Linked DNA regions of Homo sapiens. The protein of the gene in region 1 interacts with the protein of each later gene in a biochemical or structural test. Each region holds a gene or a part of one and is shown in the gene's direction. Other genes may lie near its edges.

Evidence for each region. The genes of interacting proteins can lie anywhere in the genome.
Region 2: the proteins of UBE2N (region 1) and RNF111 form a complex in vitro, tested with the Homo sapiens proteins (4 studies listed by BioGRID).

Annotation. Positions count from the first base shown.
Region 1 is NC_000012.12:93,431,934-93,438,960, reverse strand, and holds part of UBE2N (ubiquitin-conjugating enzyme E2 N), read left to right. Parts: intron 1-7,027. UniProt on the Homo sapiens protein: The UBE2V1-UBE2N and UBE2V2-UBE2N heterodimers catalyze the synthesis of non-canonical 'Lys-63'-linked polyubiquitin chains. This type of polyubiquitination does not lead to protein degradation by the proteasome.
Region 2 is NC_000015.10:58,990,644-58,997,670, forward strand, and holds part of RNF111 (E3 ubiquitin-protein ligase Arkadia), read left to right. Parts: intron 1-272; exon of another isoform or gene 273-305; intron 306-7,027. UniProt on the Homo sapiens protein: E3 ubiquitin-protein ligase. Required for mesoderm patterning during embryonic development. Acts as an enhancer of the transcriptional responses of the SMAD2/SMAD3 effectors, which are activated downstream of BMP.

The DNA of each region.
Region 1 (7,027 bases):
GTAAAGCTGGTAAGAGGCAGAATTTGGATCTTGATTAGTGTAACATTCCCCTGTCTCTTGTTACTGTAAAATGACTAACTACAAATACAAGATGATTTTCTGGACTACTATTCACCCAGTTGCTATCTCATTTAGATTCCTGTATCTAATCCAGTAGCAAATTCTGTAGGTTCTGCTTTCAATATATGTACTAAATCAGACACTTTCCCCCCTGTCTTTCAAACCTCTGTTCACTTCCATCATTTACTGCCTGGCCTCCTGTATTAGCCTACTTTGGAGCAGCAGCTAGTGTTATCTTCTTAAAATATAGACCATGTTACTCCCCTGCTAAAAACTGTAGAGGTTCTCCATCACACTTACATTAGAATCTTGCCTTCCCCCCCACCCCTTAGCTATAAGGCCCTGCATTCATTTGGGATGCCTACTTCTGAGCGCATCTGCACTTCTCTCTCTGGGTCACTCCACTGTAGCCACACTGTTGCTTTGCTGTACCCTGAACAATAAGTGGTTGAGCTTATTCCAGTCACAGGACTTTCCTCCAGTTTGTTGCATTGCTTGCTTTGTCCAGTTGTTCCGTTCTTAGCTCATATGTCATACCCTCTACCTAACCTGTCCCGTATAAACCAGTTTCCCTTTTTCCTCCCCCACAATTTTATCCTCCTATCTCCCTTTCTTCTGTATAAGTGCTTATTACTGTTCGAAGTTATGTTATTTACTGTTTATTTCTCTCTATTCCCCATTAAACCTTCATGAAGTTAGGGACTCTTGGATATCCCGGGCATTGCTCATTCGTGCCTAGACCAATCCTTGGCACATAGTAGATACTGAAATATTAATAGACTAACTGAATAGATGAGCCTTAATCTCAATGAGCAATAATTTGACATTGTTACTCCTTGGTATATTCTGTCTGAACCAATGTCTGAGCTAAAAGTTAAAGCTAGTCTCGTTTTCCACCCATAAGCTCACTTAAAAAGGACATCAATCTTTTACATTATTTCTTTTTTGTGTGCCTACTCTGCTTATGTATCTTTTTTTATTAACTAGGAAATGCACACATAGAGCACATTTGAAAGGCTCTGAAGGATACGTAGAGAATCCCTCATCTGTCCTTCAGCATTCCAGTTCCCCTGCTTAGAAAACCACTGTTTTTGTTTGTTTGTTTGTTTGTTGAGACGGAGTCTCCCCCTGTTGCCCAGGCTGGAGTGCAGTGGTGCAATTTTGGCTCACTGCAAACTCCACCTCCCAGGTTCAAGTGATTCTCCTGCCTCAGTCTCTTAAGTAGCTGAGACTGCAGGCATGTGCCACCACACCTGGCTAATTTTTAGTAGAGATGGGGTTTCACCATGTTGGCCATGCTGGTCTCAAACTCCTCTTCTCAAGTGATCCACCTGCCTCAGCCTCCCAAAGTGCTAGGATTACAGGTGTGAGCCACTGCACCCGACTTCAACCACTATTTTTATTGTGTATCCTTACAAGAAGACCAGAGCAACTTTCTGCTATAAGTTAGGCGTCTTCTCCTTCTCATGCAAATACCTTGATTCCCTTCTCTTCCCCTCTAACCACCTATGTATCTTCAAGTTGACTTTTTTTTTTTTTTAAGAGACAGACTGCTGCTTTGTTGCCCAGGCTGGAGTGCAGTGGCTTTTCACAGGCGTGATCATAGTACACTATATACATACAGCCTCGAATTCCTAATATCAGGTGATCTCTACCTTCAGCCTCCAGTATCTGGGATTACAGACATGCATCATAGTGTTCTGCTTTGGCTCTTTTTTTTTTCTCAAAGGGCTGTTTAATGGAACCTTATGGTTAGACTTTATTTTATTTTTTCAAATATTGGAAATTTAATACTTTTTCAGTAGAGATGGGGTCTTGCCATGTTGCCTAGGCTGTTCTCGAGCTCCTAGGCTCAAGTGATTCTTCCACCTCGGCCTCCCAAAGTGCTAGGGTTAACAGGCATGAACCACCGTGCCTGGCCTAGACTTTATTGTAACTAATTGCTTATTCATAACTTTCAGAATGTTTCCTAAATTGTGCTATATAAAAAATGCTGTAACGAAGTTTTGTATGTATGGCATTTTGCACAAGTGTGAGTGATATTGAGTCTTAGTAGTTCTGTTTTAAGCTAGAATCTTTAGTTTCGTTTTTCTGCCTTATCTTCTGGACCAAAGCTCTTTTAGCCAATAAAAGTGACTGAAGCTGGGCATGGTGGTTCACACCTGTAATAACAGCTCTTTGGGAGACTGAGGCCCAAGGATTGCTTGAAGCCAGGAGTTGAGACCAGCCTGAGGAACATAGTGAGATCTCCATCTCCACCAAAAAAAAAAAAGTGAGCAGTTAAAGCTTAAAGTCATAAAGGTTAGGAGGTACCTAAAATGTCCCTCAAATGAGAGGTTCTGCATAATCCTGTCATAAAGGAGAATCACTTTCGGGAACCGATAAGTGAGATCTATAGTTATGGCCTTGGTCAAAACCAAATCTGTTTCAGCTTTACATGTTACGTTGATACAGTGACTGACATTCCTTTAATGGTCTTTTCAGAATTAATCATGAGGGCTGAGCACTGTGGCTCATGCCTATAATCTCAGTACTTTGGGAGGCTGAGGCGGGAGGATCCCCTGAGCCCAAGGTTTCAAGACTGGGCTGTACAACATAATGAGACCTTGTCTCTACAAAAAGATAAAATGAAAATTAGCCAGGTGTTGTGGCACACATCTGTAGTCCCAGCTACTCAGGAGACAGGTGGGAGGATTGGTTTGGCCCAGGAAGTTGAGGCTGCAGTGAGCCTAGATCGCGCCACTGCACTCCAGCCTGGGCGACAGAGTGAAACCCTGTCTCAAAATAGTAATAATGATAATAATGAAAATGATAAAATACAGTCTTGGGAAAAAGTAGTTAACTTACCCTAGGGGTTGACTTATTTGATTAAAACCTAGTGAGTCAACCTGCTGGAATTAGAATTTTACCAGTCTTTCGCAGAATTTACTTTATGTCTCCCTTCCCCACTGGTCCCTTGTCTATGGTGCTTAAAAATTTACTTAAGAAAATACATTTAATTAATTTTTTGAAACAGGGTCTCTGTCACCCAGGCTGAAGTGCAGTGGAAAAATTTACTCTTCTATTTGGTGTGATTTAGCCTCAAATTCTTAAAAATCAGATACAGTCTGATTTTACATTGAGACTTGAGTTTACTTTTTTAATAGGATTTTTTGAAGTACACACATTTTTTCCTGTTACTGTTTAAAAGCCACTCATTTGATAGGTATTCTAGTGCATAAGGTATTTTTTTTTGTAAGAAAAGTGATTTAGAAAACTCACCTTTTATTTATTTGAGACGGGAGTCTTGCTTTGTTGCCCAGCCTGGAGTGCAATGGCACAATCTCGGCTTACTACAACCTCTGCCTCCCAGGTTCAAGCAGTTCTCCTGCCTCAGCCACTGGAGTAGCTTTACTCTCTGCCTTGAACATTTTTTTTTTCTTATTTTGAGATGAAGTTTTGCTTTTGTTGCCCAGGCTGGAGTGCAATGGCGTGATCTCGGCTAACTGCAACCTCTGCCCCCTGGGTTCAAGCAATTCTCCTGCCTCAGCCTCCCTAGTAGCTGGGATTACAGGTGTATGCCACCACGCCCAGCTGATTTTTGTATTTTTAGTAGAGGCAGGGTTTCACCATGTTGGTCAGGCTGGTCTCGAACTCCTGACCTTTGGTGATCTGCCCACCTCGGCCTCCCAAAGTGCTGGAACTACAGGTGTGAGTCACCGCGCCTGTCCTATCTGTTGTTTTAAGCTCTGAAAATACTTGTCTGATAATGTTTTCTTCCAATTAAAAAAAGGCATGGAAAAGTTACCATGATGTTTCAGAAATATATGTACCTCCAGGTGGGGGCAGGGAAACTTAGCCAGGTATGGTGGTTCATGCAGTAATCCTAACAGAAGACTGAGGCAGGAAGATCCCTTGAATCCAGGAGGCCGGGGCTGCAGTGAGCTATTAGTGGCACCACTGCACCCCAGCCTGGGTAATAGAGGCAAGACCCTGTCTCTTAAATAAATAAATAAATAAATAAATAAATACAAACTCATTATGATGAAGACAGATTTGTTATAAGTTGTAATTAAAATCACCTTTGGAATTTAAGAAAAAACTTGTAAAAAATTTGACTAGGAACAGTGGTTCTTTAGTTCTTTCAGTTGTCTCACTTAAGAATTTTCTGACCTCTTCCTAGGAAAAAAAGCTATTTTTTTTAACGTATGACTTCTGGGGATTCAGATTCTTGCCAAGTTTATTTGTGGATTCCCTAGGTCTCCATGTGCTCCATGTTAAGAATCCTTGAACTGCTTTTGATAGTGATTAAACTTTCAGGCTCTAAAGATACTGTTTTAATATACTATCTAATGTTTTGATTATGAAATGTGAGCATAACTGAAAGTAAGTTAAAAATAGCAGTCAGTTCAGTATTCTTTTTTAAGCTCCTCTGTGTCAAGCAGTTCCTTTAGTCCAGATTGATCAACTCCTGCACAAGTGAAATTAAGTTTTGTCAAATTATCAAGTACTTTAGTATTCACTGTGCTAAATGACTGTGACTGGAAATGTTATGCATTTGCTTTGCTCAAGTTTGGAATTTTTTCCACACGTGTTAATGACCACTCTTAAAACCAGAGTTTTTTTTTGTTGAGACGGAGTCTCGCTCTGTCGCCAGGCTGGAGTGCAGTGGCACGAACTCGGCTAACTGCAATCTCCACCTCCCAGGTTCAAGCGATTCTCCTGCCTCAGCCTCCCGAGTAGCTGGAATTACAGGCACGCGCCACCACACCCAGCTAATTTTTTTTTATTTTTAGTAGAGACGGGTTTCACCATGTTGGCCAGGATGGTTTCAATCTCCTGACCTCGTGATCCACCCACCTCGGCCTCCTAAAGTGCTGGGACTACGGGAGTGAGCCACCAGAGTTTTACACATTAGAGAACATCTGTTCTATCCTTTTCTTTCTCTGGTGAGGAATTTGTAGGCCAAAGAAGTTGGATGACCAGATTCCTGATGTACAATTCGGTTCTTCTTCTTTTTTCCCTATACCTTATAGGATAGTTTACCTGTGTAAATGGATTTAAGAAGAAAATATGCTACAGATTCAAGTTGTATGGATTCTGAACACACATTATGTTTTCTGTTATAATGAACTATGGATGCATATGTGCTATAGAAATAAATACTAGAAACAAGGAAATGAGGACAGCAGCATCCAGCAGGGGCTTTTGACATTACAATTATAGTAATCAGAGTTCTGATTTAGGTGCCAAATTCGTATCTTATACAGTGCTGCTTTCTAAAAACAAAATAAATATGAGAGGCATAGTTTATGTAATAATATTATATCAAGGAAAAGAATTCTTATGTGTGTATGCGAAAAACGAGTTGGACTGTTGTTTCATTAGAGTTGAAATTTTCTTTGCAAATGTAATATATGAAGGAATGAATGTGGATATACCAATTAGGCAATTAAATAATAGGGAATCTTTTAACTTCAGCTAAAATCTTAGCAGCTTTTAAAATTTCTTCCCAAGTGAAGTGATTGATGGCCCTAGGGTCTTTTGTGGCAGAAACATGACTGTGTGGTTGGAAGAACTGGATAATTGGTTAAGAGCCCTCAGAATCAACAGAAATACTTCATTATTATTCATTCTTTCAAGGGCTACATGACACCATTGGGGGCATTTTATATTTTTTAAAAATCCTGGCCAGGCGCGGTGGCTCACGCCTGTAATCCCAGCACTTTGGGAGGCCGAGGCAGGAGGATCACAAGGTCAGGAGATCGAGACCATCCTGGCTAACATGGTGAAACCCCGTCTCTACTAAAAATACAAAAAAATTAGCTGGGCGTGGTGGTGGGTGCCTGTAGTCCCAGCTAGTCGGGAGGCTGAGGCAGGAGAATGGTGTGAACCCGGGAGCAGCAGAGCTTGCAGTGAGCGGAGATCACCCCACTGCACTCCAGCCTGGGCAACAGAGCAAGACTCCGTCTCAAAAAAAAAAAAAAACCTGAATGAAGCTATTCTAAAATTTCTTGAGTACTTAGGCACAGACATTTTTGGTTTTGAATTGGCCAGTAACTGAGATGCTTCTGAATAATTAGGATTCTACTGTAATTTAAAGTAATTTTAGATACTGGTTTCAGAATCTAAGGTTGACATATTTTGCATTAAAACAACTGGCTATGTTGTCTTTAGATTTTCAATTTTTTTTTTAGTTTTCAATACCTTCACATTATGTCTCTGTCAGTTTGGTTAATTTTGGGCAAATGAATTTATATTTTGAAAGTCTTTACAGTTCTAGGGATTGAAGGCATTGTAGTTAAGGAAACACTAGAAAGAACTAACAAATTTATATCATGAAACCATTGGTGATTTTTTTATTGCTCTGTAACTTTCTTAAGATTATAGCTTATACTCGGGAAAATGTTAGTAAGTAGCTGTTTTGTTTTGTTTTTTTTTTTTTGTGACTCTTAAAGACAACTAGATTACCATCTTACTATGAGGCAGGGACAAAGTGGTTTTAGTAACATAGGCCGATCCCAAGGCCAAATTTCAGTTTTCTGTAACCTTGTGATTTGCGTGTCTCTTTATTATCCATTCATGAGATTTTTTTTCAGTTCAATTAATTGGACATTCATTGAATGCATAATATGCATTTACCAGTAAGCCAGGTGAACAAGAAAGGCATCCCTGTGTAATGGAAAACACAGTCATGAAACAAATTTCTGTGGCCCAGGCTGGAATGCAGTGACGTGACTTGGCTCACTGCAACCTCTGCCTCCCGGGTTCAAGCAATTCTCCTGCCTCAGCCTCCTGAGTAGCTGGGATTACAGGTGCACGCCACCACACCCGGCTAATTTTGGTATTTTTAGTAGAGACAGGGTTTCACCATGTTGGTCAGGCTGGTCTCAAACTCCTGACCTCGTGATCCGCCCGCCTCAGCCTCCCAGAGTGCTGGGATTACAGGCAGGAGCCACCGCGCCCAGCCGAGGAAGTGTTTTTAAAC
Region 2 (7,027 bases), on another chromosome or scaffold:
ACTGTTTCTCAAAACAAACAAACAAAAAAACTATGATTGTTGTTCCACATATTATTGCTATTGTTGTCCCATTGTAGATATTAATTACTGAAGCTTTAATAGCTTTCAGATGGTACTAAAAATGAAATTTTTTATTACTCCTGGTAACATTTTAAAAATCATCTGGAATAATTTGTTTTTCTTTCAGAAACCTGTAATTATTGTTCAGTAAAAGTCCACAATTACATTTGAATGTCTTATACCTCTGTTTGTTTCTTTCCTACATCCTACAGATTCTTGGTAACAGCTGGCCCAGGTTTCTACAGGTACTCAATTTATATCATTACATGAGGAGTGAATTACAAATATTTAAAGACAAATACTTAGCTGAGGCTGGGTGCGCTTGCTCATACCTGTAATCCCAGCACTTTGGGAAGCCGAGGCGGGTAGATCATGAGGTCGGGTTCGAGAGCAGCCAGGCCAACATGGTGAAACCCCGTCTGTACTAAAAAAAAAATACAAAAATTAGCTGGGCATGGTGGTGGCATGCGCCTGTAATCCTGGCTGCTCAAGAGGGTAAGGCAGAATTGCTTGAACCCGGGAGGTGGAGGTTCCACTGAGCTGAGATCTGCACTCCAGCCTGGGTGACAGAGCAAGACTCCATCTTGAAAAAAAACAAAACAACAAAAAAGCCTCCAAATACTTAGCTGAGCTTACATTTTAAAGAGCGGTACTGCATTATTACGTAGATACATTTATTGAATGTCTCATGTTCTAGGCACAGTCACTGGTCTTCAGTGAAGGCACTCTGCCTTCATGGAGCTGACATTCTGTTCTGTGTGTGGGAACATAATAAACAGAATGGTTTCAGGTAGTGGTAAGTGCCATGAGGAAAATAGGACCATGTGATACGGCATGGATGGAAGTGGTTTTACTGTAGATTGAGTGGTTAGGGAGGGCCTTTTTAGAGGTGGTAATTTGACCTGTGACTTCAATGACTAGAAAAAATCAGCCATAGTGACGATTTGGAGGAAGACTGCTACAGATAGCAGGGGCGGCAAATGCATTAGGTGAGGTTTGATTCTAGAGAATCTACAAATGTAAATTAATTATTTGGTTTGTCTGTTAAGCTTTTCATATTTGCTGTCAGATGATGTAGACAGATTAAAATTATTTTATGTGTAGTAACCAAATACAATATGTTGGTGTTGTTTAAACCCTGACTCAAACCAATTGTAGAAAGTCATTTTTGAAACATTGGGGGAAATCTGAATATGGATGGGTATTAGATGATATCAAGGAGTTATTGTAACTTTGTTAGGGATGATAATGGCATTATGTTTATGTAAGAAAATGACCACTTTTTATTAGTGATAGAGACTGAGGAATGAGGGAGAAAACTTGCAAATGTCTGGTATTTTATTTTATTTTATTTTATTTTGAGATGGAGTTTCCCTCGTTGCCCAAGCTGGAGTGCAGTGGTGTGATCTCAGCTCACTGAAGCCTCCACCTCCCGGGTTCAAGCAATTCTTCTGCGTCAGTCTCCTGAGTAGCTGGGATTACAGGAGCGCGCCACCACGCCTGCTAACTTTTTGTATTTTTAGTAGAAACGGTTTTTCACCATGTTAGCCAGGCTGGTCTTGAACTCGTGATCTCAGGTGATTCGCCCGTCTCGGCCTCCCAAAGTGCTGGGATTACAGACGTGGGCCACCGTGCCCAGCAATGTCTGTTATTTTAAACAGATACCAGATAAAAACCAAAAAATGTGGTGGAGGGAGATAAGATAGATGAAGCAGGTCTGGCACAATCTGGATAATTGTTGGGTTGGGGTGATGGGTACATGGGTATTAATAATATTGTTCTCTGCTTTTGTGAGGTTTGAAAATTGTTCATATTTTAAAATATATTTTTTTGGCTGGGCCCAGTGGCTCATGCCTGTAATCATAGCACCTTGGGAGGCTGAGGAAGGTGGATTGCTTGAGCCCAGGAGTTTGAGACTAGGCTGGGCAATGTGACGAAATTCTGGCTGTACCAAAAAAATACAAAAATTAGACAGGCATAATGGCACATGCCTGTAGTCCCAGCTACTCGGGAGGCTGAGGTGAGAGGATGGCTTGAGCCCGGGAGGCAGAGGTTGCAATGAGCCGAGATTGTGCCACTGCATTCCAGCCTCGGTGACAAAGCCAGACCCTATCTCAAAATAAATAAGTAAATGAAATAAAATAAAATAATATATTTTTGAAAACGTTCATTCATGTTTAGGCTGGACATGGTGGTGCACACCTGTAGTAATCCTAGCACTTTGGGAGGCTGAGGCAGGCGGATCACCTGAGGTCAGGAGTTTGAGACCAGCCTGCCCAACGTGGCAAAACCCTGTCTCTACTAAAAAATACAAAAAGTAGCCGGGCATGGTGGCGGGTGCTTGTAATCCCAGCTACTTGGGAGGTTGAGGCAGGAGAATGACTTGAACCCAGGAGGCAGAGGTTGCAGTGAGCCAAGATTGCGCCACTGCCCTTCAGTCTGGGTGACAGAGCAAGATTCCATCTCAAAAAAAAGAAAATGTTCAATTGTAAATAAAAATGTTTTAAAATAATTAGTAAAAGTGGCCAGGTATAGTGGCTCACACCTGTAATCCCAGAACTTTGGGAGGCCAAGGCGAGTGGATCACCTGACATCAGGAGTTCGAGACCAGCCTGGCCAACATGGTGAAACCTTGTCTCTACTAAAAACACAAAAATAAAAAAAATATAACTGTAAATACAAAAATTAGCTGGGCGTGGTGGTGGGTGCCTGTAATCCCAGCTGCTTGGGAGGCTGAGACAGGAGAATTGCTTGAACCCAGGAGGTGGAGGTTGCAGTGAGCTGAGATTGCACCACTGCACTCCAACCTGAGTAACAGAGTGAGACTCCATCTCAAAATTTGTGAAAGTACCATATTTAAGTGTCTGTTCCCTTCCACGCTTCTTTTCATTTTGATAAAAATACAGTATTTCGTTTCTATTTGTAAATGTTCAGTATTTATTCAACAAACAGGAGTGTTGTATTTCAGGCACTGTGCCAGTGCTTGAGTTAAAACAAAGGGCAGGCTCTTAACACCTGCCTGAAGGGGCTTATGGCTTGCTGGTGGAAAGGAGAGTTTGGCAGTGTGGATTGTGTTAACATGGAGAAGATTTTTGTGTTTTCCTGAGGGCATACACGATTAGCATCTTAGTTTAGTTTGTATGTGATTGGATTCTTAAAAAATATTTTTCCTTTTCTACCAAATAGAAAATTTAAGAAATTCTATATATGGCTAGGTGTCAAGTCTGAATCAATGTTGTAGTCATTTCCCTTATTCATATGTACTATAGGGCACTCGAATAAATTACTTATTTTACTATCTTTTGACATCCCAATTTGTTGTTACTTAAATTTTTTTTTTTTTTTTTTTTTTTTAATGGAGTCTCACTCTGTGGCCCAGGCTGGAGTGCAGTGGCCCCATCTTGGCTCATTGTCACCTCCACCTTCCAGCTTCAAGTGATTTTCCTGACTCACCCTCCCAGGTAGCTGGGATTAGAGGTGCACGCTACCACGCTCAGGTTATTTTTTATATTTTTGGTAGAGATGGGGTTTCGCTATGTTGGCCAGGCTGGTCTCGAACTCCTGACCTCAAGTAATCCTCCCGCCTTGGCCTCCCAAAGTGCTGGGATTACAGGCGTGAGCCACCACGCCTGGCTACTTACATTTTTATTTTGACATAATTTCAAACTTACCGAAAGATTTAAAAAATAGTACTGAGAACTCTTGAATACTCATTATTCAGATTCACCAATTTTTAATGTTGTCACTCTTGCTTTCTTATTTTCTCTCTCTTTTTTTTTTTTTTTTTTTTTTGAGGTGGAGTCTCGCTGTGTTGCCCAGGCTGGAGTGCAGCAGTGTGATCTCGGCTCACTGTAACCTCCATCTCCCAGGTTCAAGCGATTCTCCTACCTCAGCCTCCTGAGTAGCTGAGATTATAGGTGCCCGCCACCACGTCCAGCTAATTTTTGTATTTTAGTTAGAGACGAGGTTTCACCCTCTTGGCCAGGCTGGTCTCAAACCCATGACTTTAAGTGATCAGCCTACTTCAGCCTCCCAAAGTGCTGGGGTGAGCCTTTGCGCCTGGCCCCTTATTCTCTCTTGAATCATTTAAAAGTAAATTGCTTACATTATGCCCATTACATTGCATTATGCCCATTTGTTTCTAAATATTCACTGTGTATTGTATTCTTTTGCGTTATCACTGCACCAGTTACAAAATTCAGAAAATTAAACTTTGATAATATTAATCTACAGCTCATTTTCCAGTTTTGTCGAATTGTCCTGATAATAGCATTTATCCCTTTACAGCATTTTCCTCATAGGACCCAGTTCAGGATCACAAAATGCATTTAGTTGTCATATCTCTTTAGTCTCCTGTAATGTGGAACAGTGCACCTAATAAGCAATCTGTGGGGATAACTTTGAGATAGTGCAGCTACTCTGCTCCTCATCAGATCATCCTGTTCCTCATCACTCCCCACATCCCCCAAGGCCCATGTAGCATCCATTGATGTTTCTTGCCTATGCTGATCTTTACTGATCTTTACTCTAATGGTTGGAAAGTGTTTATTTTGTAACTCATCCATTTTCTTCACTAATGGACATTCTTTTATAAGGAAGAGACATTCTTTTATCTGATTAATACAGAATTGTGTGTTTCCTGTTTTATTCAGTGGGTTAAATAACCCATTATAACCTTTATTTTGATGTTCAAATTGTCCCAGATTTGTCCATTAGGAGCCTTTCCAAGTGGGCTCCTGTGTCTTTTTAACATAACCTCTTGTTTTTTTTTTTTGACGGAGTCTCACTCTTGTCTCCCAGGCTGGAGTGCAGTGGCGCGATCTTGGCTCACTGCAACCTCTGCCTCCCGGGTTCAAGCAATTCTCTGCCTCAGCCTCCCAAATAGCTGGGATTATAGGCGCCTGCCACCATGCCCGGCTAATTTTTGTATTTTTAGTAGAGACGGGGTTTCACCATCTTGGACAGGCTGGTCTTGAACTCCTGACCTTGTGACCTCGTGATCCACCTGCCTCAGCCTCCCAAAGTGCTGGGATTACAGGCATGAGATGCCGTGCCCCGGCCTTTTTTTTTTTTTTTTTTTTTTTTAAGTATTTCCTGTCTTTCTGGCACAGCAAGATGTTGCAAGCACATCTTATTTCTTTCCTTTGTCAGTCTTGGAATGAGCCGTTTTCCATGGAACCCTGGTTCCTTTTAGTGAGCAATCCAATTTGCTGTTGTGTTATTTATATACAGGAATAATCTTTTTTTCATGCATCAGGACATCGCTAGGAAACTAAATTTAAATTAGATTTTTGATAGTAGGTTTATATTTCTTTGAAGATTTTATGAAGTAATCACGTAAGACTCAGCAACTTATTGTCATAAAGCAATTTTTTTCTTCTTTTCTTTTTCAAATACATAATGAGTTATGTTCTTAATTGTGATCATATGAAATGAGAAAAAATTGTGTGTGTATGTTTAGCCACTTAACTGTTTATTAAAAACCTGAAGTTTATACTTTTAACTATTTTTAACTAAGTCATCAAACATTCTAATCTGAAGAAAACTGTTGCTTTTTAAGAAACTTTAAAATGAGTTCAAAAAATTGGGCTGGGTGCGGTAGCTCATACCTATAATCCCAGCACTTCGGGAGGCCGAGGCATATGGATCCCTTGAGGCCAGGAGTTCAAGATCATCCTGGCCAACCTGATGAAACCCTGTCTCAACTGAAAAATGCAAAAAAAAAAAAGTAGCCAAGTGGGGTGGTGCATGCCTGTAATCCCAGCTACTTGGGTGGCTGGAGCAGGAGAATCGCTTGAACCTGGGAGGTGGAGGTTGCAGTGAGCCGAGATCATGCCACTGTACTCCAGCCTGGGCAGTAGAGCAAGACTCCATCTCAAGAAAAAAAAAATTAAAAAATTATGAAACAGAATTTTTGTATGTGATTGAAAACTCATCAGTACTTTCTTTTTTTTTTTTTTTTTTTTTTTTTTTTTACCCAGGCAGTTACTGTTACATCTTGGTATATTTCATAGCCAGTTTCTCACCTGTGTATGGATATTTGCTTTATTTACTTATTCAATCTAACTTAATGTGTGTTTTTTCAAAGTAATATTTTGAATATTTTAAATTTTCAACCAATTAATATCTGTACACGGTTTTAAAAGTCAGTTTCAAAAGACTTACAATGAAAAACAGTGGTTTCCTATGCAACTCTCCTAATCTCCTAGTTGTACTGCTTAAACAGAAACATTTTAGCTCTCAAAAATTATTTCTGTAGTCTATACCTTTATATTTATAAGTAGTATGCTTATATTTGTTTGTATTTACTTGTGTACTTATATTTCTACTAATATGCTTAATTTTTACTTAGTTTTCATGTCAGTTTAAGTGTCTTTTTTTAAGTTAATTTTTTCAGAGAAAAGTAATATATACAAAGTGTACCAAATTTATAAGGTACAAAGAATGTACAGGGAAAAAAAACAAGGCTCCTTGCCATTCTTATCTTCCTATGACCCAAGTCTTTTCTCTGAAGATGTATCTCTTTCCTCCTGTATTTTATATGTGCATCCAGAGTAGTGGTTCTCAGAGTGTGGTCTGTTGACTCTTGAGGTAGCTCTTCCAAGTGTTCAGGAGGTCTACCAGGTTGAAACTATTTCAGAATATTACCAAGTTCTCATTTTCTATGTAACTGATGTGAACACCAGTTGACATTTGCACTGATGGTGCAAAAAACAGTGGTGCATTAAACTAATGGCCCTGTAGCACAAATCAAGACAGTGGCCAAACTGCATTAGTAATCACTATGTTCTTCATGACTACACATTTGCAGTTAAAAAAAAAAAAAAAATCAGGGCTGGGTATGGTGTCTCACGCCTGTAATCCCAGCACTTTGGGAGGCTGAGGTGGCCACATCACGAGGTCAAGAGATCGAGACCATCCTGGGCAACATGGGGAAACTCCATCTCTACTAAAAATACAAAATTAG